7 linked regions of the Homo sapiens genome follow. The protein of the gene in region 5 purifies or fractionates together with the protein of the main gene of each other region. This does not show direct contact. Each region holds a gene or a part of one and is shown on either strand. Other genes may lie near its edges. The genes, in order: METTL3, THG1L, TIFAB, ERCC3, NSUN2, UPF1 and DDX49.

Region 1 (3,500 bases), on a different chromosome or scaffold from region 5:
AGCCTCCCCAGTAGCTGGGATTATAACCTTGCATCACCACCCCCAGCTAAATTTTTTTTTTTTTTGTATTTTAGTAGAGATGGGGTTTCACCATGTTGGCCAGGCTGGTCTCGAACTCCTCACCTCAAGTGATCCACCCACCTTGGCCTCCCAGAGTGCTGGGATTACAGGCGTGAGCCCCAGTGCCTTACCAGAATGGAAATATTTAAGTAAACAAAATATTTCTAAATGTAAACTAATGGCCTACTTATTTAGCAATTTCAGTTCAGTTCTTAGGAGTTTAATATTTCATCTATATTTTAATTAACCACAGATATTAGGCTTTCTCAAAGATAACATTTTGTCCTAATTTTAGTTTCTCAAATCGTTATTAAGGTTATGATGGCAACCCAGCTTGTGAAGTAATAGATGATAATAATATAGTCAGGAAATATCATTTGGTAACCAAGGCTTCAGCAAAGTATTAAGATTTTTGTGTTTGTGAGTGTTATAGGTAACACTGTTGGCCCCCAACATTGTCATTTTGTACACTTTGTTGATCAGTGGCCTGAATTCATTAAAATTCACACTACATGCCTCAAAAAGAATATTGGATCCCAGCCTAGGTTGTTGAGTATATTCCTGTCCTTTATTAAAATGTAGGTTGATAGAAAGGTGGTAGGGATATTTAAATCTATCATGCTAATTTACTTTCTTTGTATCACAGCAAGGATAGGGAATTAGGAAAAGATTACTCACTCAATAGAGAAAAGGTAGATAGAAAATCCAGTATTATCTTGACAAAGCAGTGAATGTTTTAGTATGATTGAGGATAGGTAATCTAGTGCTAAAGTTGGTCACAGAATTTCCTGCACAAAATGAAAGATCTGTGTATGGGAATGCTAGAGAATTTGACTTCTCAGAAATATATAGACCAACAGTGGTTGCCTTTTTTCATTTTCACTTCTCTTCATTCTTAGATCTACGGAATCCAGAGGCAGCATTGTCTCCAACCTTCCGTAGTGACAGCCCAGTGCCTACTGCACCCACCTCTGGTGGCCCTAAGCCCAGCACAGCTTCAGCAGTTCCTGAATTAGCTACAGATCCTGAGTTAGAGAAGAAGTTGCTACACCACCTCTCTGATCTGGCCTTAACATTGCCCACTGATGCTGTGTCCATCTGTCTTGCCATCTCCACGGTAATGACCTGACAGAGTTAGGATTTACCACTTATTTTCAGTTCACGGTCAGTGTCTTATTGCCCATACCTCCCCTCGTTCTCTAGCCAGATGCTCCTGCCACTCAAGATGGGGTAGAAAGCCTCCTGCAGAAGTTTGCAGCTCAGGAGTTGATTGAGGTAAAGCGAGGTCTCCTACAAGATGATGCACATCCTACTCTTGTAACCTATGCTGACCATTCCAAGCTCTCTGCCATGATGGGTGCTGTGGCAGAAAAGAAGGGCCCTGGGGAGGTAGCAGGGACTGTCACAGGGCAGAAGCGGCGTGCAGAACAGGACTCGACTACAGTAGCTGCCTTTGCCAGTTCGTTAGTCTCTGGTCTGAACTCTTCAGCATCGGAACCAGCAAAGGAGCCAGCCAAGAAATCAAGGAAACATGCTGCCTCAGATGTTGATCTGGAGATAGAGAGCCTTCTGAACCAACAGTCCACTAAGGAACAACAGAGCAAGAAGGTAGGGGTCATGTGAAAATACTCTCACAATATGCTCTTAATTATAGCTTTGTTTGACAGGGATTTACCCCTAGGGCAAGGAACTGTTTACAGCAGTGGTTCTCAACTGGGGATGATTCCCTACTGCCCAACTCCCAGGGGATCTGGTAATGTCCGGAGACATTTTTATTGTCACACATGGGGGAGTGCTATTGGCATCTAGTGGGGGTAGAGGCCAGGGATGTTGTCAAACATCCTACAGTGCATAGTGGGACAAACCCCCACAACAAACAGTTGTCTGTCCCAAAGTGTCAACAATGCCAATGTCGACAAATTCTTATTTAGATAATCTGTCACTGAATCTGAAAGAATTGGATCAAGAGAAGAGGAATCCAAATATATAGAAATATAGGGAGATGAATGGAGAGGAATACTAGACCAATTATGGAAATTGACTAAATAATGTGAATTGGTTCTGAGTATAAGCATTGGCCTGACATGAGTTCTTATCTGTTTGGTACTTCTAGTGCGTGAGTTTGAACAAGTTAATTAACTTCTCTTGAGCCTTAGTCTTCTCATCTGTAACATGAAGATAATACCAGCGTATCCTGCCTTATAGAATTGAATAGACTCTGAGCTAAAAAGTAAAGTGTTTAGCACTATACTTTTTAGTTCAGCACCCAGTAAATATGTTTTTTGTAGAAGGAATGCCTTCCTGGGGAGGGGATGTTAACATAATGCTTAGCGGTAGGAACCAGGCCTCTTCCATTTTAATTTCATCCCAAATGCATATTTGTGAGGAAGGACTGAACCCCTAACAAATCTCTTATCTGAAGGCTCCAATTTTCCAATATTAAGTTAGCTAATTTAGGTCTAGGCACAATGGCTCATTCCTGTAATCTCAACACTTTGGGAGGCCAAGGCGCGAGGATCACCTGAGGCGAGGAGTTCAAGACCGGCCTGGGCAACATAGACCCTATCCCTATAGAAAGTAAAGTAATTAAAACATTAGCTGGCATGGTGTCACGCACCTATATTCCCAGCTACAATTGAAGGCTGAGCTGGGAGGATCACTTGAGCCTGGGAGTTCAGTGGGAGAAACAGTGAGTTATGATTACACAACTACACTCTGGCCTGGGTGACAGCAAGATCCCATCTCTTAAAAAAAAAAAAAAAAAAAAAGTTGATTTATCTCTTAGAAGACATTAATGTCAAAAAGAATTTGCGGAGTTGGTCTAAGAGCCAATTTGATCTATAAGACATTTTAAGTCCAAGGCTACTTCTGTCACAGGTCAGTCAGGAGATCCTAGAGCTATTAAATACTACAACAGCCAAGGAACAATCCATTGTTGAAAAATTTCGCTCTCGAGGTCGGGCCCAAGTGCAAGAATTCTGTGACTATGGAACCAAGGAGGAGTGCATGAAAGCCAGTGATGCTGATCGACCCTGTCGCAAGCTGCACTTCAGGTCTCTTGGAAGGGAATGAGGTGGGATGGGTTTGTCAGAAGCAGCCATTCCTTTTCAGCATATTCCTTCCAGTCATTGGGGTTCTGTCTGTAATCTTATTTAGTTTATGGTTTGTGTAAGTCCTCCAGACCCTGAAGGTGTACTTTCAGAAGTGCATTGTGTGGGAAGAATACAGGCTGTACTCCCAAATAACTGAGATTTTTTTTTTAAAAGCTCCCTCCCTCTTAGAATAGCAAAGTATGTCTGTCTCTGAGCCACAGTGAAAGTTAAAGTACTCTGAAAGGAGGATAATCTTAGGAGAAAAGGAACCTAAACTCTTAGGTCAGTGTTTTATTCTGTTCTACCCAAGTCTCCTGCACTGCTTGCCTTCCAGTGGTAAAACAGGAA
Region 2 (3,500 bases), about 150 Mb from region 5:
CAAAATCTCATTCTTGTCTGCTGCAAGAGTTCCCTGAGAAAATAAAAATAGATATTAAAAGCTCTGCATGTCTTCTTTCTCCCCTAGTGCTACTATCCATTCGACCCACAACCTAAATTTCCACAATCAAGAAGTGGAAGGATTTTATCAAACATCTTATAGTTATTAGTAAATTTTCATCTTAAGGGCAATTATGATCTTACTTAGATAAAATTCTCTCCTATACCAAACACTGGCTTCACAAGTCAAGACTGAAAGGGAGTGGGGAGAATTAATACTAACTGAATACATATTATGTATTTGGTCCAGTAAAACTTAGAAAGGTTATATAAATTCCCCAAGGTTAAAAGGTTGTCCTTATTCTTCTACGAAGAATTGAAATCTGAACTTGACTCTTCCAAACCTGGATATACCTACCAGTATGCCTTTTTTTTTTTTAGACAAAGTCTCACTCTGTTGCCCAGGTTGGAGTGCAGTGGTGCAATCTCAGCTCACTGCAACTGCCACCTCCCAGGTTCAAGCGATTCTCATGCCTCAGCCTCCTGAGTCGCTGGGATTACAGGTGTGTGCCAGCACACCCAGCTAATTTTTGTAGAGAAGCGGTCTCACCATGTTGGCCAGGCTGGTCTTGAACTCCTGACGTCAGGTGATCCACCTACCTTGGCCTCCTCAGAGTGCTGGGATTACATGCGTGAACCACCACACCAGGCCCCAGTTTTCCTATTATTGCTATATAAAAATCTCTATCATTACTATTATTAAAAATGACAACCATTTATTGAGCAAACATAATGTACCAGGCATTGTATTAGTAACTGTTACAGCTGGGCACAGTGGCATGCACCTGTAATCCCAGCTACTTGGGAGGCTGAGGTGGGCGGACTGCTGGAGCCCAGGAGTTCAAGACCAGCCTGGGGAAAATAGCAAGAACCCATCTCAAAAAATAAATAAATAGATAAAATAAAATACAAATAAAAGATCTGTTACAACACATTACCTCACTTCACAGTTAGTCATCCTACAAGTAGCACTGTTATAACAAAAACCAGTATTTATTAAGCACTTACAATGTGCTTCATACGATTCTGTGTTTTACGTGCATCATGCCATTTAATTCTCACCATAAACCTATGAGGTAGAAACTACTATTTTCTACATTTTACCTATAAAGAACTGAGGCAGAAAGGATAAAATTACACAGAAGCATGATGTGAGTAGTTATTATGACATTTATGAAAGTAACAAACTCAGCACGAACTCTTCCTATACACAGAGGTCATAAACCCAAGAAACTACAGGTGCCCAGCAGGGAAAATGGCAATGAGGGAAGAGGCGTGGTGGGACTGACAAAAATTCAGTGCTGGCCAGGTGTGGTGGCTCACTGGCTCACGCCTGTAATCCCAGCACTCTGGGAGGCCCAGGCAGGCAGATCACTTCAGGTCAGGAGTTCAAGACCAGCCTGGCCAACGGGGTGAAACCCTGTCTCTACTAAAAATACAAAAATTAGCTGGGTGTGGTGGCATGCACCTGTAATCCCAGCTACTTGGGAGGCTGAGGCACGAGAATCGCTTGAGCACAGGAGGTGGAGGTTGCAATCAGCTGAGATCACACCACTGTACTGCAGCCTGGGCAACAGAGTGAAACTGTGTCTCAAAAAAAAAAAAAAAAGTCAGTGCTGAAGACGGCAGTCATACACAGTCATACACGGCTTCAGGCAAGTGTTAGCACGTGGGAATGCAGAGCCAGTGCCGTCAATTCCATTTTCCACTAAGAACACAAAGGCTCAGGGAGAAGCAGTAATTCATCCAGGATTACAGACCAAGCAGGCAGCAGAGCTGCTCCTATTATGATTTTTATATCCTTTCAAAACAAAGCTGTACAGGGATCTTAAAAGAAAGAAATGTAAATTTAACAAAAAAAAAGTTATGGGAGAGCCTACAGCGAACTGTCCCCAGTTAAGTATTAATGTAGTAAGATCTTTATACCTGTAATCTCCCTTGGGCTTGTACTGGTGTTAGTCCAGATTGTTGTATAAGTGCCCAGAAAACTGTATTATAAAGATTATTGATGTGACCTGTGAGGAGAACAAAATAGTAATGTTTATATACATAAAATCTTTATTGAATATTCATTCTTCAAGGAATACTAGAGCCCTGACCCTCTCCTCTTTCATAGTAAAGAGATCTCAGAGACATTCAGTGACTTGACCGAAGTCCTACACACGGAACATGGAGGGAAGGAGCAGTAGGGAAAAAACTTCATCCCTAACAACAGTTTTATTTGGTCATTTCAGTTACACATTATACAAATCTGTTAACTTGTGTGTTAATCCTAGGAATACTTTAGAAGTTATTTGATTTATATTATTTCAATCTCTTTTCCAGTTCTTCTGGAAAATTCAAACTAGAACAAGCAAGTAAAAGCCTCACAAACATCATCACAGTCACATAAGGCAAGGGTCACAATTCAAATACCCACTGAGGCCAGCATGAACATAAATGTGTAAAGCAGTGGGTGACCCCAGAGGAACAACAGGGAATGGCAGAGACTATGGCACACTGGCATTTGTGTGTGTGTGTGTGTGTAAAGGTAGCTGCCACTGAACAGGCTTTGTCTAGTACTAAGTAAGAATGCAGATCCAGTATTGCCACATCTGATTTTTTTAAAAAATAGAGATAAGGCGGCTGGGCGTGGTGGCTCACGCCTATAATCCCAGCACTTTGGGAGGCCAAGGCGGGTGGATCACCTGAGGTCAGGAGTTCAAGACCAGCCTGACCAACATGGAGAAACCCCATTTCTACTAAAAAATACAGAATCAGCCGGGCGTGGTGGCACATGCCTGTAATCCCAGCTACTCGGGAGGCTGAGGCAGAAGAATCCCATGAACCCAGGAGGTGGAGGTTGCAGTGAGCCAAGATGACACCACTGCATTCCAGCCTGGGCAACAAGAGCGAAACTCTGTCTTAAAAAAAAAAAAAAATAGAGATAAGGAGTTTTTACGTAAAATTTAATTTTTCAAATACTTTTAACTAATTGAAAAAATATTTAAATACTGCATTCTGTACAACGTATATGTTGAAACAAAGTATATGTGAGCCAATCCTGTATCAGATCAACACCTGTAAGACATGGAATTGGTGGTTTAACTACATGTGTTTATTTGGTGCCACTCACAATCTGCTTGTCGCCAGCTGAGGTAGTCCTTTAAAGTCTGGTTGCTGGGATACACCACGACTCTTCCGTCAAAGCCTGGGGGATACAGAAGGGGCTGGTCCTCAAAGTAATCCCGCCAATAAAACACATAGCTGGAGGCAAACTGGGAGGCCACGTGAGTCATGAACTTACTTGAAAATGTAACGCACATTGGGTGGAGTAAGAAAAAGAAAAATACACGGAATTAGTTCAACACCATGATAAGACCTGTGGGTACCACAGAGAGTACACAAACTGCCCAGAAAGCCAGGAGATAAAATGCATTTGGCTAAGAAACACTATTTTAA
Region 3 (3,986 bases), about 130 Mb from region 5:
GGAAATAGCAGACAAAAGCCTCCAGGGATGTGCCTTCTTCTACGCGAACCAGCATCTGGATGCCTGAGAAGGAGACCCTGTTGACGGTGCTCAGGGGGACCTGCTCCAGGTACCTCAGCGTCAGCCCATTGACCCACACACAGCCCTTGCGGCTCAGGGCCTTGAGGCAGAAGGCCAGCAGGGCACTGCCTTTCTCCAGGTAGGGCTCCAGGGACAGGTGACGGCGGGAGAGGCGAGGGAGCTGCAGCTGGAGGTGGGCGTCCTGCCCCCGTCCGAGAAGCAGAGGGCTGGTATCATGCTGCAGCCGTGGTGGGACATTGGCAAAGGCAGATGGGCCCAGCGTGGGATGGTACAGGCTCACTCGCAGGACGGTGAGGGGCTTCTCCATGGAAGAAGTCCTGGGAAGTTGGAACATGGACACACAGGCTCAGCTTCAGTCAGAGACCTCTGTGGCTCCCTGAGCCCAGACACACTTGCCCACCTCAGGGGCCCTGTGCCTGTTCATACAATCACTCTGCCCAAGCCAGGATGGAGCCAAGGCTGGAATTGGTGTGGAAGGTCATGAGCTTAGTCTCTCTCATACTCTGAATAGAACATGCCACCCACTCTGTCTGACTTTTGGATTTCTGTAGTATAGATATATCTGTCCTTGTCTATGCAAGGGATAAGGCATGCTGGCTTGCAGGGTGGGGATTTGGTAATCTTTTGGTTATTTGGAGACAACTTGGCCCTGCTTCTTGGAAAGGAAAGGGTAGACAGACTGGCTACATTTTCCTTGTATCTGACAGTCACACAACAAACCCTTGCTGAATCCTCCTTTGAGCCAAGCAGGGAACCAGCTGCTGGGGAGAAGCAGATTCAACAACGAACCGAGCCCTGACTCTTGGGAGCACCCACTGGTGGAGGAGAGAGGTGTTTCTAGCATCAGGATGTGTGGAAGGACACAGAAGGAGGATGCTTAGCCTAGTCCTGGCCACCAGAAAGGCTGCCTAGAAACCCTGGTGAAGAGTAAACAGCTAGCACATTCCGAGTGGTTACTATGGGCACTTGCTGGAAGGCCACTCACAATGGCCAGCTTTGTTCCTGCATGGGTTTGAGGAACACAAACTCTGCTATGTCCACCAGCACCCTGTGGCCCAGGACCTGCCATCATCTTCAACAGGAACCAAGGGTTGAGTGGATTTGAATAACTAATTATACATTCTCTGGGTACCAGGCTTTTGCTCACATTATTTCTCTCCTAAGAATGCATCTTCCATCCCAAACTCTGTGTCCAAATACTGCCCACGGTTCAAGGCCCTGTTCAAGTGTTACCTCTCCTGTGAAGCTCCCTTCCCTGGGGAAGGTGACCTTTCGCTGCCTTCTGACTCCCACAACAGGGGGAATCCCCCAGGACACCTGGCCAACCTTACTCTCCATTCATTCCATCTTTGCATTTCATGCCCAAGTTCTGTGGGCCCTTGTCCTGTCTTCCCTGAGTTCCTCTCTTCCTGCCCCTGAGGCCTCCCAAGGGCTGGGTATGGTCTGGGCTGTGGTTCTTGCTGCCCCATGTTCCACTGCCCCATACAAATAGGGCCTGGCCACCATAAATGTCCAGGGGCACATTTGCCGAGTGGCTAAATGAGAAGCCCACACACACACATGGTGAAATCACCCAGAGAGACCACAAATGGGATCATGTCTCAAAGGCTGTGGGACAGCGAGCCTGTTGCAGGTGGCTTGAACTCAATGTCCCTCCAGGTCTTGAACCTGCTGCCCCTCCTGCCTTTTAGATGCAGTAGGTTAATGGCTGAGACCTTTTAGTCTGATAGTGAGGGCACCCTTTCACTATCAGAGGCCTGAGGGCACCCCCTTTCCCCTAAGGCACAGACACACATATGCCTCTACCCACACCCCATCTGGCCATAGTCTGCCGAAAGCCTTTCTTTTTTTTCTTTTTTTTTTTTTTCTGAGATGGAGTCTCACACTGTCACCCAGGCTGGAGTATAGCGGCATGATCTTGGCTCATGGTAGCCTCCGTCTTCCAGGTTCAAGGGATTCTCCTGCCTCAGCCTCCCCAGTAGCTGGGATTACAGGTGCCCGCCACCATGCCCAGCTAATTTTTGTATTTTCAGTAGAGACGGGGTTTCGCCATGTTGGCCAGGCTGGTCTCGAACTCCTGACTTTAGGTGATCCGCCCGCCCCGACCTTCCAAAGTGCTGGGATTACAGGCGTAAGCCACCACGCCCAGCCAGAAAGCCTTTTCTCGAGGTATGCGTTACAGGCTGAGCCCAGGACAGGTGGGCTGGGCAACCCATGCTGTCAGGCCTGGCTGGAAACTCAAGAGTTCACTCCCAGAAACTAATATCACGGCACAGAGACCCTGAAAGAATCCCTCAGGAAGAAAGATTCACAGTTGCTGTGTGGCCTTACTCTCTGCTCCAACCAGAGCTAACAGAAATCTCCCACTAAAGAGGAGCCCATCCACGACAGGCTGTCCCGTGTCTTTTGGATCCCAGGTGTTCTGGGGAAACAGAAACCCAGCCCTACAAATCCAGCCTTTGGGACGGGGCAGGAGGAAGACACTCCAGAATGTGTGTCTCAGGGGAGCCCTCCTCCCAGCCCCACCAGGCCCTCCCTTCTCCCCATGGGTTCAAGCCCCTCTGGCTTCAACTTACCTTATTGCCGGGGCACATCTGGCTCTAGTCCTGCAGCTGTGAGCTCTTGAGAGGGAGTAGGCTGGTTTGGGTAGGGCTGGGAGGGCTCCTATGGCTGCAGTTCAGGAACGTGGCAGAACATACTTCAGTTTTGTTGCATTCTTCCTTTTTCCCTTTAGGAAAGAAAATAGAAGTGTAATTTTTCATTGCAGAAGTGCAATTCCACTGCTGAGAGTTTGAGAAACCCCAGCGTGGGGCCCCTTCTGAGACAGATGGCCTGCCTTCCTGGGTTTCAGTTCTGCCAGCCTCTCCTACCCCACCCCCAGGGACCTTAGGACCTGCACCCAGGGTATCTGCAAAGTTCCTCTCCACCTGCCAGTAGGATGGGGTCAAAGCAGCCCAGGCATGTTAGAAAAGAAGAGCTTTTTGGGACAGATGGCTACGGGACAGGAGAGTCCCCTGAGTGTGGGAGAATGAGGAGAGCGTTCTGGCTGGATAGAGGTTGGCCAAGGAAACTGTAGGCAACATGGCACTTCCCTGAGGGTCTCAGGAGAGGGCAGGGCCTGGGGACGGGGAGGATGGAGAGGGCAGTAAATGGCCACTCATAGAACATGATCTCTCCTGCAGAACAGTGAGAAGGTGGTCTCTCATGCCCACTCCCCATCGCCCGAGCTCTGCCTATTTGCATGCAGTTTGGAAGGGGTGAAGATGGTCGCTTGTCCAGCACTGCGGGCTCTGGCTGCCCTGGAATGTGAAGGTGCTAACCCTTCACGTAGCCCAGCATTTCATAGTCCACCAGTGTGTTCAAGTCACCTGCGTTATCTCCTAGGAGTTTTATAGTTCTATACGTACATTTTAATTTTTCTGACATGTGTAAGGTTTGTGTCTAGATTTTTTTTTTTTTTGGCTTATAGGTGTTCAGTTGTCTCAGCACCATTTTCCGAAATGACCATGTTTTTTTTCCTTCAGTGTTTTCTCTTTACTCCTTTGTCAAAGATTGGTTGACTGTATTCATGTGGGTTTATTTCTGGGCTCTCTACTTTGTATCATTGATCTATTTGTCTATTTTTTCACCAATACCTTACTGTCTTGATTGCTGCAGCTCTGTAGTAAGTCTTGAAGTTGGGTACTGCCAGTCCTTCAATTCTGTTCTTCTCTTTCAATTTTGTCTTGGCTCTTTTGAGTTGTCTGTCTATATAAATGTTAGAATCAGTTTGTTAATAGCCACAAAATAACTCGCTGGGATTTTGACGAGACTTCATCAAATCTATCAATAAAGGAGGGAAGAACTGACATCCTGACAGTATTGAATCTTCCTATTCATGGACATGGGATATCTCTCTATTTGTT
Region 4 (3,500 bases), on a different chromosome or scaffold from region 5:
AGCCTCCCAAGTAGCTGGAACCACAGGTACACACCACCACGCCCAGCTAGTTTTATTTTTTGTAGAGATGGGGTCTCACTACATTGCCCAAGATGGTCTCAAACTCCTGGGCTCAAGCTATCCTCCTGCCTTGGCCTCCCAAAGTGCTGGGATTATAGGTGTAAGCCACTGTGCCCAGCCAGCCGACTACATTTTATGACTTATAAGCTGAATCCTCACAGCAGTCTTGGCAAGACAGGATTGTCACCCCCACTTTGGATGGGAAAACCAAGTCTCAGAGGAGAAAATAATTTGCCAAAGGTGACACAGCTGGCTTGGTGCCTGAGTCCATGCTATTTCTAGTCCATGCTATCTGCCTCATCTCCATTTTAAATACAAGCTACTAGACGCTTCTTAAACACATCTGAACGCAGTACAGTTCCAACAGATGCCCACTAATCTTGTCATTTTCAAACATTCTAGCAGTCCAGATGCCTCCTTGAATAAGCAGACTCCTTGAGGATAGGGCTTGTGTCCTTGTCTCAGGATGTGCCCTGGTCCCAGTAAGACAGACACGGCCATCTCTTAGCAAGAGTGTCAGTCCCTGCCATGTCCACAATGGCAGTCTGGGCCCTTTTACCGCAGTAAGCAAGCACAGGGGTGCCACGCCTCCTCAGAAAAAGCCTTTGCAATGAGGATTCTCACCTCCTCACTCACTGAGCTTGCCCTGCCCCTGCTGCAAGCTGCCACCAGGGCGGCACTCTGCACAGGTTATGAATGACGTGCCCATTGTGTGTCTGCCCAAGCTGCTCCTACCAAACCTTTCCCTGCCTCCTGATCAAGTTCCAGAAGCAGCTTCCAGCTCCTCCACTTACACTGGTGGCCCAGCTCTGTTTTCTCCCTTCCATGTCTACCCCATAAGCACTGCCTTGCCCTGGCTCCCTCTCACCATCTACCAACACAGCTGCACAGTGTACAGAGCACATCTGTGTGGATTCCGTGACACTGTCATGGAAAACACCTGCATATTCACCCCCAAGGTATGAGAAATAATGATGGGCCATAAGGATCTAGGTCTTTGCTTTGGGATTCTCTCCCTCCAGAGTCTATTTAGCCCCAGGGCACATGGCAGCTCTCACCCCTATCGTCTTCCTAACTAAAGTGGTTTAAGAGGAGTGACCTCCTGCAACAGAAGATGAAAGGCCACTTTACCTTTTTTAGCTCGAAGCACCCGCCCTAGCCTTTGGGCTTCCTGACGCCTGGAGCCACCATGGGATGAGATCTGAATGAGGACATTTGCTTCCGGCAGATCAAACGAAGTGTCACCTACCTACAGAAACAAGTTGGAAGGTTTTTATATATGAGGAAAAAAAAAAAGTCAACTGATCCAGAATTTAAATAAGTTCTGTAGATAATTTTGAAACATAATCACTCTTTTCTCCTCTTTATACCAGGGTCTATCTGATGCAGGCAGAGAGAGGTGAAGCAATAAACCTCAGAAAGGCATCTCTGGGTCTCCAGGACCTTGTGTGAGTTCTGCTAAGAGTCATCCTGAAGAATTAATACCAGGCATCAGTGACATTCAGTGCTGGGTGCCAGGAGCCCAGAGATGAGAGGGCCCTTGAACAGAGACTGACTTTGAGTCATTCATTTTTTTGGCTACAGAAATATGTCTCCACAAAACCATCCATACTCTTACCTGTTGGCCACTGACACCAGCAGCACACGTGGGATGTGACCTGGGAGGAACAACTGCCCCATATGGAATTCTGACTGTAGGTGGATTCCTCAGCTCTGGGGCTCCAAACATCGAGGTTCCCAGCCACAGACATGAAGGTTTGGTGCTTATAAGCGCCCAGCCACAATCACATAAAATCTCATTTCTTTTTTTTTTTTTTTTTTTTTTTTTTTTGAGACGGAGTCTCGCTCTTGTTGCCTAGGCTGGAGTGCAACGGCACAATCTCAGCTCCACTGCAACCTCCACCTCCCGGGTTCAAGTGACTGAACCCTGCTGCCTCAGCCTCCTGAGTAGTTGGGATTACAGGCGTCTGCCACCACACCCAGCTAATTTTTGTATTTTTAGTAGAGACAGGGTTTCTCCATGTTGGCCAGGCTGGTCTCGAACTCCTGACCTCCGGTGATCCACCCGCCTCAGCCTCCCAAAGTGCTGGGATTACAGATGTGAGCCACCGCGCCCGGTTGTAAAATCTCATTTCTTTTGGGCTTTGGGTCTGTCTTAATCTGAATGACTATTCTAAACTGTGGGGCTACAGCTTCTGATTGCAGAGTAAACCATCCCTGAGCTGGGCCTGCGGAAGTCTGTGCTGACATCCACCACCCATCATCAAGGGACACCAGGAACCAGGACAAAGGCTGCCGCGACACACAGGATCTCCAACTTGTAAAGAGAACTTCATCTAAATGCCTACTTTTGCCAGAGTAGGAAATGAACTTTTTTTCCTTTTATAAATAAGGAAATACAACTTAAAACTTCTACATCCCCAAAAGAACTGGAAAAACCTCAAATAGCCTTTATAGATTATCCATGATGCATGCAAATCCTCAGTCTGCTCCTTCCACTAACCCCAGGCAGTGCCCCCTATCCCTGGACATGTCGGAAATGAAAACATGCAGGAGAAGTTCCTTCAGCAGACATGAATTCACTGTCCAGGAATCATAGTGTACCCCCCAGGTCCCCAGAGTGCTAGGGGCCTCACCTCCACCCCATATGCCACACAAACCTTGGATATGAAGATGGTGTTAATTTTGGGGTTGTGCTTGAAATTCTGGAGAATTTGCATCCTTTCCCCCTGAGACGTAGGTCCGTAGATATAGGGTCTAGAGAAGAATGAAGCTGTGTTAGACCACAGAATAATGCCTCAGTTATCTTGAAAACACATCAGAGGGAAAAAGGAGCTCAGGCTAGCTCTTCTCAAGTAGAAAGCCCTCGTCATGTAGGAATATCGTTACACCCAAAAAAATGACTGGCTACAGATGCACCTCCCAGCCTTCCCCACTGATTCTAGGTTTAGGCCCACCATTCTCTTCGGGATTCCCTCCTTTCCATTTTTCGTTTTCTTTTTGGACTATGCTTTTTCCTGCTTCAACATCTCTTACTCTCAGCACAGAGTCTATACAAGGAGCATCTCCACATTTCATGAAGCCCAAAGAGAGGTGCAAAGAAACCACTGCTATTTCCAAAAAAAGGCTGGAAGCAACTGTTTGCCAAGACACAGGCATGCTCCAAGAGATGAGCAGAAAGGAGAAAAGTGCCCTTCAGCCATTATTGTGCTGATTTCCCATAACACTAAGTTTTAAAAACTTCTCTTTAATTTCTAGCTCCCTGCCAGGCGCGGTGGTTCACGCCTGTAATCCCAGCACTTTGGGATGCCGAGGCGGGTGGATCACCTGAGGTTGGGAATTCACGACCAGCCTGACCAACATGAAGAAACCCCGTCTCTACCAAAAATACAAAATTAGCCGAGTGTGGTGGCGCATGTGTGTAATCCCAGCTACTCGGG
Region 5 (3,500 bases):
CATGGTATAACTGAGTAACAAGTTTTTTTAAAAGGAAAGAAACAAAACTAAAGACATCATCTGTTCCGTTCCCATAGGAGGTGCACGGATGATGATCCCAGGTGATAATGACTTCTGAATGACATAAGTTTGTCAAGACCAGAATTCAAAAGCTGCCACAAAACTTGTTAGCACAGAATGCAAGCTTTAGATACGATACCACATTATGGAAGAATGCCATTTTGTTTCAGTAAGTGGCAGAGTTACTGCTCATGGCAAAACTCAGTATGAAACTTGCAGCTGGTGGCTCTGAATATAGCTGAGTGTTAAAATAATCTGGAAAAAGCCCTCTTTAAAGTAAAATTTAAAATACATCATGAACTAAAGTTTTTTTTTCCTCTAGGTTGCAATTTTTCAGTATTCCTTGGGGTCTCATGTTTTCCTACCCCTGTTTTTTGATCAGAAAGATAACTCGTTCCTTGTATCATATTCTGAGATCTGAGAACGCAGTGACCTTATGAGCAAGAGGTTGCAAGCTGGGGAAATTTCTGAAATTGTGGTGGGATTTCTACCATGCAAACAACTAGTGTACAGCCAGGAATGCCATTGCAAAGTGGGGATTACATCTCATGGGATAATTCCATCCTGCAGACCTAGTCCCTCGTGTACACGCGGCTAGACCATCAAGGAAAATCAGCATTTACAGAGAAAGCCAACAAAAACAGGCGTTACCTTCTGGGAAAACAGGGCAGATAAAATTAGACACAGAAAGTAACAAATCCAGTCTTTACTATAAAATATACATGGAAAGAGCTTCCATTAACAAAAACATGAAAATAACTTCCATTAAATAAAAGTAGAAAGTCAGAAATTTAACGGTGATTGTAAGAAAAATTTAGCTATTAGTAAGAAAAATTTAGCTATTATATTAGCTTAATTGAAATTACTATGGAAAATTTATTAGTCATTATTCATATAATTCTGATTAAAATGCCATTGTTGATTAACTGAGTTTTTCAATAGTATTTTAGGTTCTGAAAAACATGAAAATAACTTCCATTAAATAAAAGTAGAAAGTCAGAAATGTTTACCTGTGATTGTAGGAAAAATTTAGCTAATATATTAGCTTAACTGTGGAAAATTTCTTATTAGTCATTATTCATGTAATTCTGATTAAAGTGTCATTGTTGATTAACTGAGATTTTCAATAGTATTTTAGGTTCTGTGTCCTAGGTCTGCAAATTAGTCTTGCTAGTGTTTTTTCCAAATGGAAGCACATTAATATCTCCTTAGTGAATGGAGTTTACTGTTCAAATCCATTATTTTCTGCTTGAAAATTGAAGTATAATTTAAAACTATAATACATTAGAAAATCCCTAAAACAAAAGCTGAAAGCAGATTGCAGTTGGTGAAAATGGAGATTGTTTCCTAACTGATATTTGTAACACTTGTTTTGTAACTTAGCTTGTATGTGACATATCTGTTAAAGTGCAGTCATCCACCTGTAGGGAGCTTTGCACTCATAAATATCTTTTTTCCAGTGGAGACGGCACTATGAGAAAAAACATTGATGTTTGGAAAAAGTGGACCACCTTAAATAGCTTGCAGCTACATGGGTAAGTAAAACTTCATCACTGCTAACACTGTGTGACAAGTAGATCAGCAGAGATTTATTGTTATGCAAGTGAGCATCCGATCTTTAATTAGAGAGCTGTAAGCATCAGAGGATGGTCAATGGCCACCTTCAACTGTTTTATCAGAAGTTATTTGAAAACCTTTCAAGAGCAATAACTGCAAATTGTATACATTTCAGATAACACGTTTATTAAAAATGCCTTCTATAAAAATTTCTTGCAACACTTCAGATATGTATTTTTCCATGAAATGACCGTTTACCTCTTGATGTATGCATTACTAATCTTTTCTCTCTGTTTTTGTTCTTTTGTATCATCGTTTTGCTAAGAGACATTTTGATCTCTTAGAAATATTTTTCGGTTGGCTTTTTATGATGGGGAACTATTCATTAAAGAACAATTGGAAAATTCTTAAAGAGAAATCTCATAACACGATGATCACGTCTGTTAATGTTTGGTGTGTTGTATTGTTTTTCTGTTTACAGGGATTTTTTAAGTACTTTTTCCAAATACTTTTGATCATGCTGTCTGTAGAGCAGTGTATTCTTTTTTTCATTTGACATGACAAATGCCATGGTCTTGCATGCAGGACTGTACTGTGCCTGAGCCACAGAATACTAATTAGCATCCACCACAACCAACTATAGCAGGAGGCCTCGTCTCCATAAAATACTGTCTACTGTTTTGTGACACAGAGACAAGAGTTAGGACTGGAATGTATGATACCAATTTTTCATAGAAAAACCACATATTTAGGAAGTATGGAGGTTTTTTAAATAGTGAAATTTCATCTAATACATTGAATTCTGTTGTTACTGAACTTTATACTCTGCTGGTTGACATATTGGGAAAGGTTAACAGAGCAGTAAGAATATTTATATAATACATTTTTTTTATTAACATGAAACACTTTATATAAGTTTACTCTAACTTCATTTAGATCCCTGGAAGGTTTTTTTTAAGTATAATTGTGTTATAAAAGCTTGTAATGAATATGTGACATAAGGAGGTGCTTCTAATATGTGCACTTCATGGATACATTTGGCCTTGCAGTCATCTGATATCTCCCCTTAGCTTACAGCTGCGGATTGCAACACGCGGGGCTGAACAGCTGGCTGAAGGTGGAAGGATGGTGTATTCCACGTGTTCACTAAACCCTATTGAGGATGAAGCAGTCATAGCATCTTTACTGGAAAAAAGTGAAGGTAAGCACGCTTGATGGATCTTTTATTAACAGCATAGGGGGCTTTTCATATGTGTATGGTACAATACACATAACGTGAGGTTTACCATCTTAATCATTTTTGAGCCTGCAGTTCAGTCCCGTTAGGTATATTCCCATTGTTAATCACCACCACCATCCATCTCCAGAAATCTTCACCTTGCAAAACTGAAACTCTGAACTCCTTTAAACAGTAGCTCCCATCTCTCTCTTCCCTGCCCCTCACACCACCGTTCTATTTTTTGTCTGTATGACTTTGACTACTCTAGACCTCACAGAAGCGGAATCATACTGTATTTGTCTTTTCGTGACTGGCTTATTTAACTTACTGCAGCGTCCTTGAGGCTCACTTGTGTTGTTGTCTGTGTCAAAATTGCATTGCTTATTAAGGCTGAACACTATTCTGTTGTTTATATAAACCGCATTTTGTTTACCCATCCATCTGTTGATGGACATCTGGGTTTCTTCCACTTTTTGGCTGTTGTGAGCCATGCTGCTGTGAGCATGGTATACAAATACCTCTCCAAGATCCTGGTTACGATTCTTTGGATATACACTCAGAAGTTGAATGGCTGGATCATATGATCATATAGTAATTCTGTGTTTAATTTTGGGGGGACCCCACCATGCTTTTTTTCACAGTGGCTGCGTCATTTTGTATTTCT
Region 6 (3,500 bases), on a different chromosome or scaffold from region 5:
TGGCCACTGTCCAGGGGTGCGCATCCACAGCAGCCCCTGGGCTGAGGGACTTCTGAGCTCATCCGGCGGCCCCTGTGCTCGCTGTAACAGCAGTGATCCACTTGGCCTCATTTTCAGCTCGACGTGGGATCATATGATGTGTCCTGGCGTGTCTGGCTTCCTCTGTCCATGTCAGGCTGGTGCTGTGCAAAAACACCGGTTTTCTCCACTGATGGAAGCTCCCAGTAGAGTGAGGAGGGCACCTGTGAATTGAGAAACTGGTTTTACAGTTTTAAGGAAACGCAACAGGGCCCAGAAAAGCCAAGATGAGCATGAAGAGCCCGAAGAAAGTGGCTGCTCACATGGCAGGACGCCCCGGCCCCCAAGCTGCAGTGTTGGGCCCCGGCCCAGGAGGGAGCCCAGAGGCAGAGCCACCGGTCAACAGGCCCTCAGCAGGAATGGACAAGGCTGCAGGGCAGGGGGACACTGTTGGCTCAACAGTGTCACACACAAGTCAGTTGTAGGGGCTGTGGCGCCTTTAAGGCAAGCTTCTGGAAGGAAGCAGGAGAATATCCTGTATCCTGGGGTTGGCAGAGATCCAGGCTGCAAGAAAGCCCTGGCTGAGACCCTGTTCCCTGTTCAGGGGCTGAGCCAGCTCTGTGCTGGCCATGGTGCTCTCGGTGGCCTCTCCTCAGCCTTGCCCAATCCTGGGCATCTCTGGCCAGGGGACCGGCTCAGGTGACCTCACCAGGGCCTCACAGATCGAAGTCTCCTGCCCCAGGACCTGCAGCACTGTAGCGTAGCAACTACATTGCCCTGTGTCTGAACTCATTTGAGGCGGGCTAGGGCTTTTGAAGTGTTACTTCTTTCCCTCCCCTCACAGCGGATCGTGTGAAGAAGGGATTTGACTTCCAGTGGCCCCAACCCGATAAACCGATGTTCTTCTACGTGACCCAGGGCCAAGAGGAGATTGCCAGCTCGGGCACCTCCTACCTGAACAGGTGAGCAGGGACAGGCCCACCGGCGTCTGCAGGTCTTGGGGACAGCTTGAGAGGTTGTTGACCCATTCTACTTATTTTTAACATGGGACTGAAACTTTTTTTGCCTTCATTTCCTGTTTAGCCTGTTTAGACTCTAAACCGTGTTGTTTCTGCCTCCTTTTCCATTGTACTTGTTTTTTATTGGGCAGATACTTGCTAATCCCACATGGCAGCCGTTTCTGCCCCTCGAGACTCCCCTGGTGAAGGCTGGGGAAGCTCAGCTGTGCAAACGCCAGTGATGGCAGCTGCCTTCCCGCAGGGTGTTGTGTCTGCACCCCTCACGGCCTCCAGCCTCAGGGCTCGGGATCCCACAGGTGGAGCCCAGCACTGACAGCCTGGGTTTCTTAGGACCGAGGCTGCGAACGTGGAGAAGATCACCACGAAGTTGCTGAAGGCAGGCGCCAAGCCGGACCAGATTGGCATCATCACGCCCTACGAGGGCCAGCGCTCCTACCTGGTGCAGTACATGCAGTTCAGCGGCTCCCTGCACACCAAGCTCTACCAGGTGCGCTGCGCCCTCGGGCACACTTGGTCTCCTGGGCCATGCAAGGGTATTGACCCTTGACCTTTAAGTTACCCCCCAAGAGGGGCCCGTCCTGGCTGGAGCTCAGAATGGCCCAGGAAGCACCAGCTGGCCCACCCTCTGGGGAGGGCACAGACAGCACATCCCCACAGACCCTGCGAAATTCCACATGATCAGGACAGAGACTTTGAGAAATACATCACAGGGATCAGAAACATGGGCTGAGATTGGCACATCAAGGTGTTTTCTCGGGATGGTTGAAACAAGTCCAAGGTGGAACGGCAGTGGTCTGTGCCTGCCACACACTGGATGTTGTGCTGTGGAGACCGTGGTGTTCACACCTTTATTGACACCCGGATGAAACACCCACTGCGGGTGTGTGGGGAGGAGGCACAGCTCTGCCTCCATGAGGAAATGAGCCCAAGTGCTGAGTCTGAGTGGCCACATGGCAGTGGTTTCTGTTCTGTTTTTGAGCACGGCTCAGGTTCTCTGGGATGAGCACGTGTGCTCTTAGTGCTGAGAAACAAATCTCCGTGGCTAAAAGAGAACAGGCTAGGTGTCATGGCCCACACCTGGAGTCCCAGCACTTTGGGAGGCTGAGGCAGGGAAGTCGCTTGAGGCTAGGAGTTCCAGACCAACCTGGGCAACGTAGGGAGACCCTGCCTCCACCAAAAAAAAATAATAACTGGGTATGGTGGCATGTGTCTATGGTCCCAGCTACTCAGGAGACTGAGGTGGGATCAGCTGAGCCTGGGAGGTCAAGGCTGCAGCGAGCTGAGATTGTACCACTGTACTCTAGCCTGGGTGACAGAGCAAGATCCTGTCTCTAAAAAAAGAAAACAAAACGAAATGGCAGCAGAGCCAGGACAGCCCCTAGGTGCGGTGAGCAGGCGCCAGGCCCCAAGCTCCCGGGTGGGATTTGAGGGTGGGTCTTGGTGTGTTTCCTGCATTTTGGGGGGACTGGGAAGGCAGCCTGCTGGCTGATAGTGACCACAAAGCTCCCTTCCAGGAGGTGGAGATCGCCAGTGTGGACGCCTTTCAGGGACGCGAGAAGGACTTCATCATCCTGTCCTGTGTGCGGGCCAACGAGCACCAAGGCATTGGCTTTTTAAATGACCCCAGGCGTCTGAACGTGGCCCTGACCAGAGCAAGGTAGGGAGGCTGCCTGCTGCATGCTGCCCAGCCGCTCATCGGTCCTCACTTCCCAGGGAATTTGGGGCTAGGGTTGGGGGTTGCCAGGGCCAGAGGTCAGAGGACTCTGAGCAGCAGTTGAGAAACGATGTCTCACTGGAGAGATCTTTGTTTCCGTGTCCTGGGGGTTTGCTGTGGCCCCTGTGCCTCAGCCCAGCAGGACGTATTTTTCCAGGCCCTTCTGGTCTGATTCAAAATAAATCTTGTGTGTGTCTGTCAAGTTGTTTAATCTGAGAGGCTGTAAGTTTTGGTCCTGTCCACTATTTTTGGTTCTAAAATACAACTTTTGTGAACTGATGATAGCAGAAGGGACCCCGAGAACAAGGTGTCCATTCTGTCATCCCACATAAAACTAGACATCAGGCCAGGCATGGTGTCTCACACATGTAATCCCAGCACTTTGGGAGGCCGAGGCAGGTGGATCACCTGAGGTCAGGTGTTCTCGACCAGCCTAACATGGTGAAACCTCCTCTCTACTAAATACAAAAAAATGAGCCGGGCGTGGTGGCACATGCCTGTAATCTGAGCTACTTGGGAGGCTGAAACAGGAGAATCGCTTGTACCTGGGAGGAGGAGGTTGTGGTGAGCCGAGATTGCGCCATTACACTCCAGCCACTGGGCAACAAGAGCAAAACTCTGTCTCCAAAGGAAAAAAAAAAACACTAGACAGCAAGGACCCATTCACCAGCTGGAAGTTGGGGGGACCTGGCCTGTGGCTCCACCCAGCACAGGGAGAGAGCCTGGTGCTCCTTCCGGCTCATATGCGC
Region 7 (3,208 bases), on a different chromosome or scaffold from region 5:
GTGCCCCTGAATCCATGTAGCAGTTATAAGCCGCTTGCAGATGAGGGGTGAGGCTTGGAGTCCGAGGGGGGTCCAGGCCACACAGCCAGGAAGCTGGCTCTGGTGTCTCTCTGCCTGTCCCCTTGGGCTTAGCCCACATTGTCTGGCCAAATTTGGACTTTCATGGCCCCTTCACTCTGGCCACAAACCCCAGATGTGGCCAGGTGGGTGGCCAGGGAAGCTTATAGCTGCACCCATTCGGCACAGGACTGACCTCACCAAAGCCTCACAGCTGCCTCTGGAGAGCAGGGCAGTTGCTATGCCCATTCTCCAGATGAGGAAACTGGAAGCCCAGAGAAGGGGCTTCAGGGCCCAAAATCCCATGGCCATTCGAGCAGCTGGTGTCTGCAAAACTTTGGGCCTGCCTGGTGGAAATGGACATGGTGTTCTGGGCAGACACCTGAGAAACAACAGCGGCTGCACCCCACCTCTCCTGTCCCCCTGCTCTTCGAAAGTCAGACTGAGGAAGTCAAAAGACCCGTTTATTAAGCACCTCCTGTATGCGGCACCCCTGGGGGGTGACCTTGGGTTGGGGTCACAACCTCCCGGTCATGTTCTTTCTTCCCCTGCAGCCTGAATCTTGGCCAGGGCTCAGGGAAGGGACCAGCCAGTGGTTTCGGGGCAGAGGAGCAGGGCCCGCACAACACGAGCGCCCACGGGTTCTGCTGTGGGGCACTGGGTAGGCCCCCGGGAAGGGCTGCTGCCCCCAAGGAAGGTTCCTCCGACCCTCAGCTCCATGGACGAGTCAAGGACTGGGCAGATGGCCGTGTGGGGCTCAGACCAGGCCCTGGGAGGGGACTGGGCCTGAGTGGGACCCAGACGGTGTCCTGGGTGGACGCCCCTTGTGGCCAGCCCTGCCAGCCTTCTGTCGCTTCAGCGTCTCCTCCACCTTCTCCTTGAAGCGCCGGTTCTTCTGCTTGATCTTGGCCAGCTCAGCCTTGCGCTTGGCCTCCAGGTCAGGGTCCTGGCACAGGGAGGACCAGGGGATGGCTGAGCTGGCGGCCCCCGCCAGGGAACCTGGCCACCCACCCCCTACCTGCGGGCTCGGCCCTCACCTTCCCCTCCAGGATCAGCTGCTTCCGTTTGTTGATCTCCTTCTTTTCGTCAAAGTGGGCCGCCTCCAGTTTCTGGTGGAGGGAAGTGGGGTAAGGAGATGCTGGTCACGGGGGCCCCACCTGGAAGGGAGCACCCCCGGCCCTGGAGAGCACTTTAGTTCCTGCCCGCCTCTGACACTCACGATCTCACACTCTCTTCGCACCACGTTGACCTGTGTGAGGATCTGTAGCACCTCGGCCTCTTCCACGGAGAACTCCTCCAGCTTCTTCTCTGTGGGGACAGCAAAGCCGGGGGTGGGGGTGGGGAGGAGACGTGACATGGAGAGGGAGTTCAGCCAAGTAGTGAGTTCCCCATGCTGTGGGGTATGCAAGGCCATCTGGGGCCATATCAGGTAAGGGTCAGCTGAGCAAGATCAGGGATTTCTGAGGTAAGGAAGGTATGGACCGCTGTCTTTCAGAGTCTCACGGTCACCCAAGCTGGAGTGCAGTGGCACTATCTCGGCTCACTGCAACATCCGCCTCCCGGGTTCAAGTAATTCTCATGCCTCAGCCTCCCCCCGCCATTTTTTTTCGGTGTTAGCAGCATTATGAGTTTAACCATGAATATTAATTTCTTGCAAACAGTGTCCTTTAAAGTCCAGATATTTCTTTCTTTTTTTTTGAAGACAGGGTCTTACTCTGTCGCCCATGCTGGAGCGTGGTGGCTCAATCAGGTCACTGTAGCCTCCGCTCAAGCAATCTTCCAACCTCAGCCTCTTGAGTAGTTGGAACTACGGGCGTGTGCTGCTAGTTTCTATATTTTTTGGAGAGGCAGGGTTTCTCCACATTGCCCAGGCTGATCTCAAACTCCTGGGCTCAAGTGATCCACCCACCTTGGCCTCCCAAAGTGCTGGGATTACAGGTGTGAGCCACCGTGCCCGGCCTTAAAGTCCAGATGTTTCTCTTTTTTTTTTTTTTTTTTTTTTTGAGACAGAGTCTCACTGTCACCCAGGCTGGAGCGTAATGGCGCGACCTTGGCTCACTGCAACCTTTGCCTCCCGGGTTCAAGTAATTCTCATGCCTCACCCTCCCAAGTAGCTGCAATTACAGGCGTGCGCCACCACACCTGGCTAATTTTTGTATTTTTAGTAGAGACGGGGTTTCACCATGTTGCCCAGGTTGGTCTTGAACTCCTGGGCTCAAGTGATCCGCCCACCTCGGCCTCTCAAAGTGCTAGGATTACAAGTGTGAGCCACTGTGCCTGGCCAAGTCCAGATGTTTCTAAATTTCAGGACAGTCTATGCAGTGATCAGAGATACCTTAGGAAGTGTCTCTGTCTTGGCTGCATATGAAACCATTCCCAGGGGTTTTTAGCAGGCCAGGCCCTGTCAATGGGGCCTCTGACATCTCAGGGACCTTCCATACATCTCAGTCTAAGAAACCCAAGTCCCCTCCTGACTGATGTGGCTTTCAGCTGCTGGCGACAACTATGGGGAGTTTGTTTCAATAAATGGGCAAAAGAACTTCTTTTGGGGGTGCCTAGGGAAGGAAGCCCCAGCCTAAATCTGCTCACGGGAGCAGGCCGGCTGGTGTCTGACGGGAAAATGGGTCTCACCCCGAGGTGCCCACCTCTGCCCACCCCACCCCTCCTTCTCTACCACCCACCCCAACCCCACTCACTGATCTGCTCCTCGATGGCGTGCACCAGGTGGATGTCGTACTGTGTCACCAGCGTGATGGCCTGACCCTGCCGCCCTGTGGGGATGTGCCGGTTATCTGCTATGTGCTGGGCGTCAGGACATGGGGCGAATAAAGGTAGATCCTGACAGCTACACAGCTCAGGGGTCCTGGAGATGCTGAACAAGGGCTTGGGCTTGGGAGGGATCAGCCCAGAGTGTCTGGGCTTGACCCCAAGCAGGACCACTGTGTGGAGGACGGGTCGCTGGGGAGAGGCAGGTCTGCCAGTCTGGCCTTACACAGCAGTTAGTTACTGCCCGATTTCCCTTTTTGGCTTGGCTGCCAGGGAACCCAGTCTAAGTAATGCCAGCCATTAGCCCTGACGGGCCTCAGCCCAAGATCTCTGCTTGCTGTTTTCTGTGACGTTGACTAGGGCCGAAACTGCACTGATGGTGGAC

What was found.
Region 1: the proteins of NSUN2 (region 5) and METTL3 purify together in Homo sapiens (affinity purification with mass spectrometry; 2 studies listed by BioGRID and IntAct, with this or other methods). This does not show direct contact.
Region 2: the proteins of NSUN2 (region 5) and THG1L fractionate together in Homo sapiens (co-fractionation; one large-scale study listed by BioGRID). This does not show direct contact.
Region 3: the proteins of NSUN2 (region 5) and TIFAB purify together in Homo sapiens (tandem affinity purification; one large-scale study listed by IntAct). This does not show direct contact.
Region 4: the proteins of NSUN2 (region 5) and ERCC3 purify together in Homo sapiens (affinity purification with mass spectrometry; 2 studies listed by BioGRID and IntAct, with this or other methods). This does not show direct contact.
Region 6: the proteins of NSUN2 (region 5) and UPF1 fractionate together in Homo sapiens (co-fractionation; one large-scale study listed by BioGRID). This does not show direct contact.
Region 7: the proteins of NSUN2 (region 5) and DDX49 fractionate together in Homo sapiens (co-fractionation; one large-scale study listed by BioGRID). This does not show direct contact.

The regions. Positions count from the first base shown.
Region 1 is NC_000014.9:21,501,341-21,504,840, reverse strand, and holds part of METTL3 (N(6)-adenosine-methyltransferase catalytic subunit METTL3), read left to right. Parts: intron 1-959; coding exon 960-1,177; intron 1,178-1,263; coding exon 1,264-1,668; intron 1,669-2,937; coding exon 2,938-3,113; coding exon of another isoform or gene 3,114-3,132; exon of another isoform or gene 3,133-3,133; intron 3,134-3,500. UniProt on the Homo sapiens protein: The METTL3-METTL14 heterodimer forms a N6-methyltransferase complex that methylates adenosine residues at the N(6) position of some RNAs and regulates various processes such as the circadian clock, differentiation of embryonic and hematopoietic stem cells, cortical neurogenesis, response to DNA damage, differentiation of T-cells and primary miRNA processing.
Region 2 is NC_000005.10:157,734,420-157,737,919, reverse strand, and holds part of THG1L (probable tRNA(His) guanylyltransferase), read right to left. Parts: intron 3,345-3,500; coding exon 3,175-3,344; intron 2,075-3,174; coding exon 1,986-2,074; intron 34-1,985; coding exon 1-33. UniProt on the Homo sapiens protein: Adds a GMP to the 5'-end of tRNA(His) after transcription and RNase P cleavage. This step is essential for proper recognition of the tRNA and for the fidelity of protein synthesis.
Region 3 is NC_000005.10:135,449,552-135,453,537, forward strand, and holds the start of TIFAB (TRAF-interacting protein with FHA domain-containing protein B), read right to left. Parts: upstream 2,801-3,986; 5' UTR 2,658-2,800; intron 1,172-2,657; exon of another isoform or gene 949-1,171; intron 399-948; 5' UTR 389-398; coding exon 1-388. UniProt on the Homo sapiens protein: Inhibits TIFA-mediated TRAF6 activation possibly by inducing a conformational change in TIFA.
Region 4 is NC_000002.12:127,270,145-127,273,644, forward strand, and holds part of ERCC3 (general transcription and DNA repair factor IIH helicase/translocase subunit XPB), read right to left. Parts: intron 2,818-3,500; coding exon 2,721-2,817; intron 1,310-2,720; coding exon 1,192-1,309; intron 1-1,191. UniProt on the Homo sapiens protein: ATP-dependent 3'-5' DNA helicase/translocase. Binds dsDNA rather than ssDNA, unzipping it in a translocase rather than classical helicase activity. Component of the general transcription and DNA repair factor IIH (TFIIH) core complex.
Region 5 is NC_000005.10:6,616,045-6,619,544, reverse strand, and holds part of NSUN2 (RNA cytosine C(5)-methyltransferase NSUN2), read left to right. Parts: intron 1-1,520; coding exon 1,521-1,595; intron 1,596-2,687; coding exon 2,688-2,818; intron 2,819-3,500. UniProt on the Homo sapiens protein: RNA cytosine C(5)-methyltransferase that methylates cytosine to 5-methylcytosine (m5C) in various RNAs, such as tRNAs, mRNAs and some long non-coding RNAs (lncRNAs).
Region 6 is NC_000019.10:18,859,459-18,862,958, forward strand, and holds part of UPF1 (regulator of nonsense transcripts 1), read left to right. Parts: intron 1-862; coding exon 863-980; intron 981-1,367; coding exon 1,368-1,524; intron 1,525-2,551; coding exon 2,552-2,694; intron 2,695-3,500. UniProt on the Homo sapiens protein: RNA-dependent helicase required for nonsense-mediated decay (NMD) of aberrant mRNAs containing premature stop codons and modulates the expression level of normal mRNAs.
Region 7 is NC_000019.10:18,925,923-18,929,130, reverse strand, and holds the end of DDX49 (probable ATP-dependent RNA helicase DDX49), read right to left. Parts: intron 2,829-3,208; coding exon 2,754-2,828; intron 1,366-2,753; coding exon 1,277-1,365; intron 1,167-1,276; coding exon 1,095-1,166; intron 1,004-1,094; coding exon 815-1,003; 3' UTR 501-814; downstream 1-500. UniProt on the Homo sapiens protein: ATP-dependent RNA helicase that plays a role in various aspects of RNA metabolism including the regulation of mRNA export and the levels of pre-ribosomal RNA. Regulates the stability and synthesis of pre-ribosomal RNA and thereby regulates cell proliferation.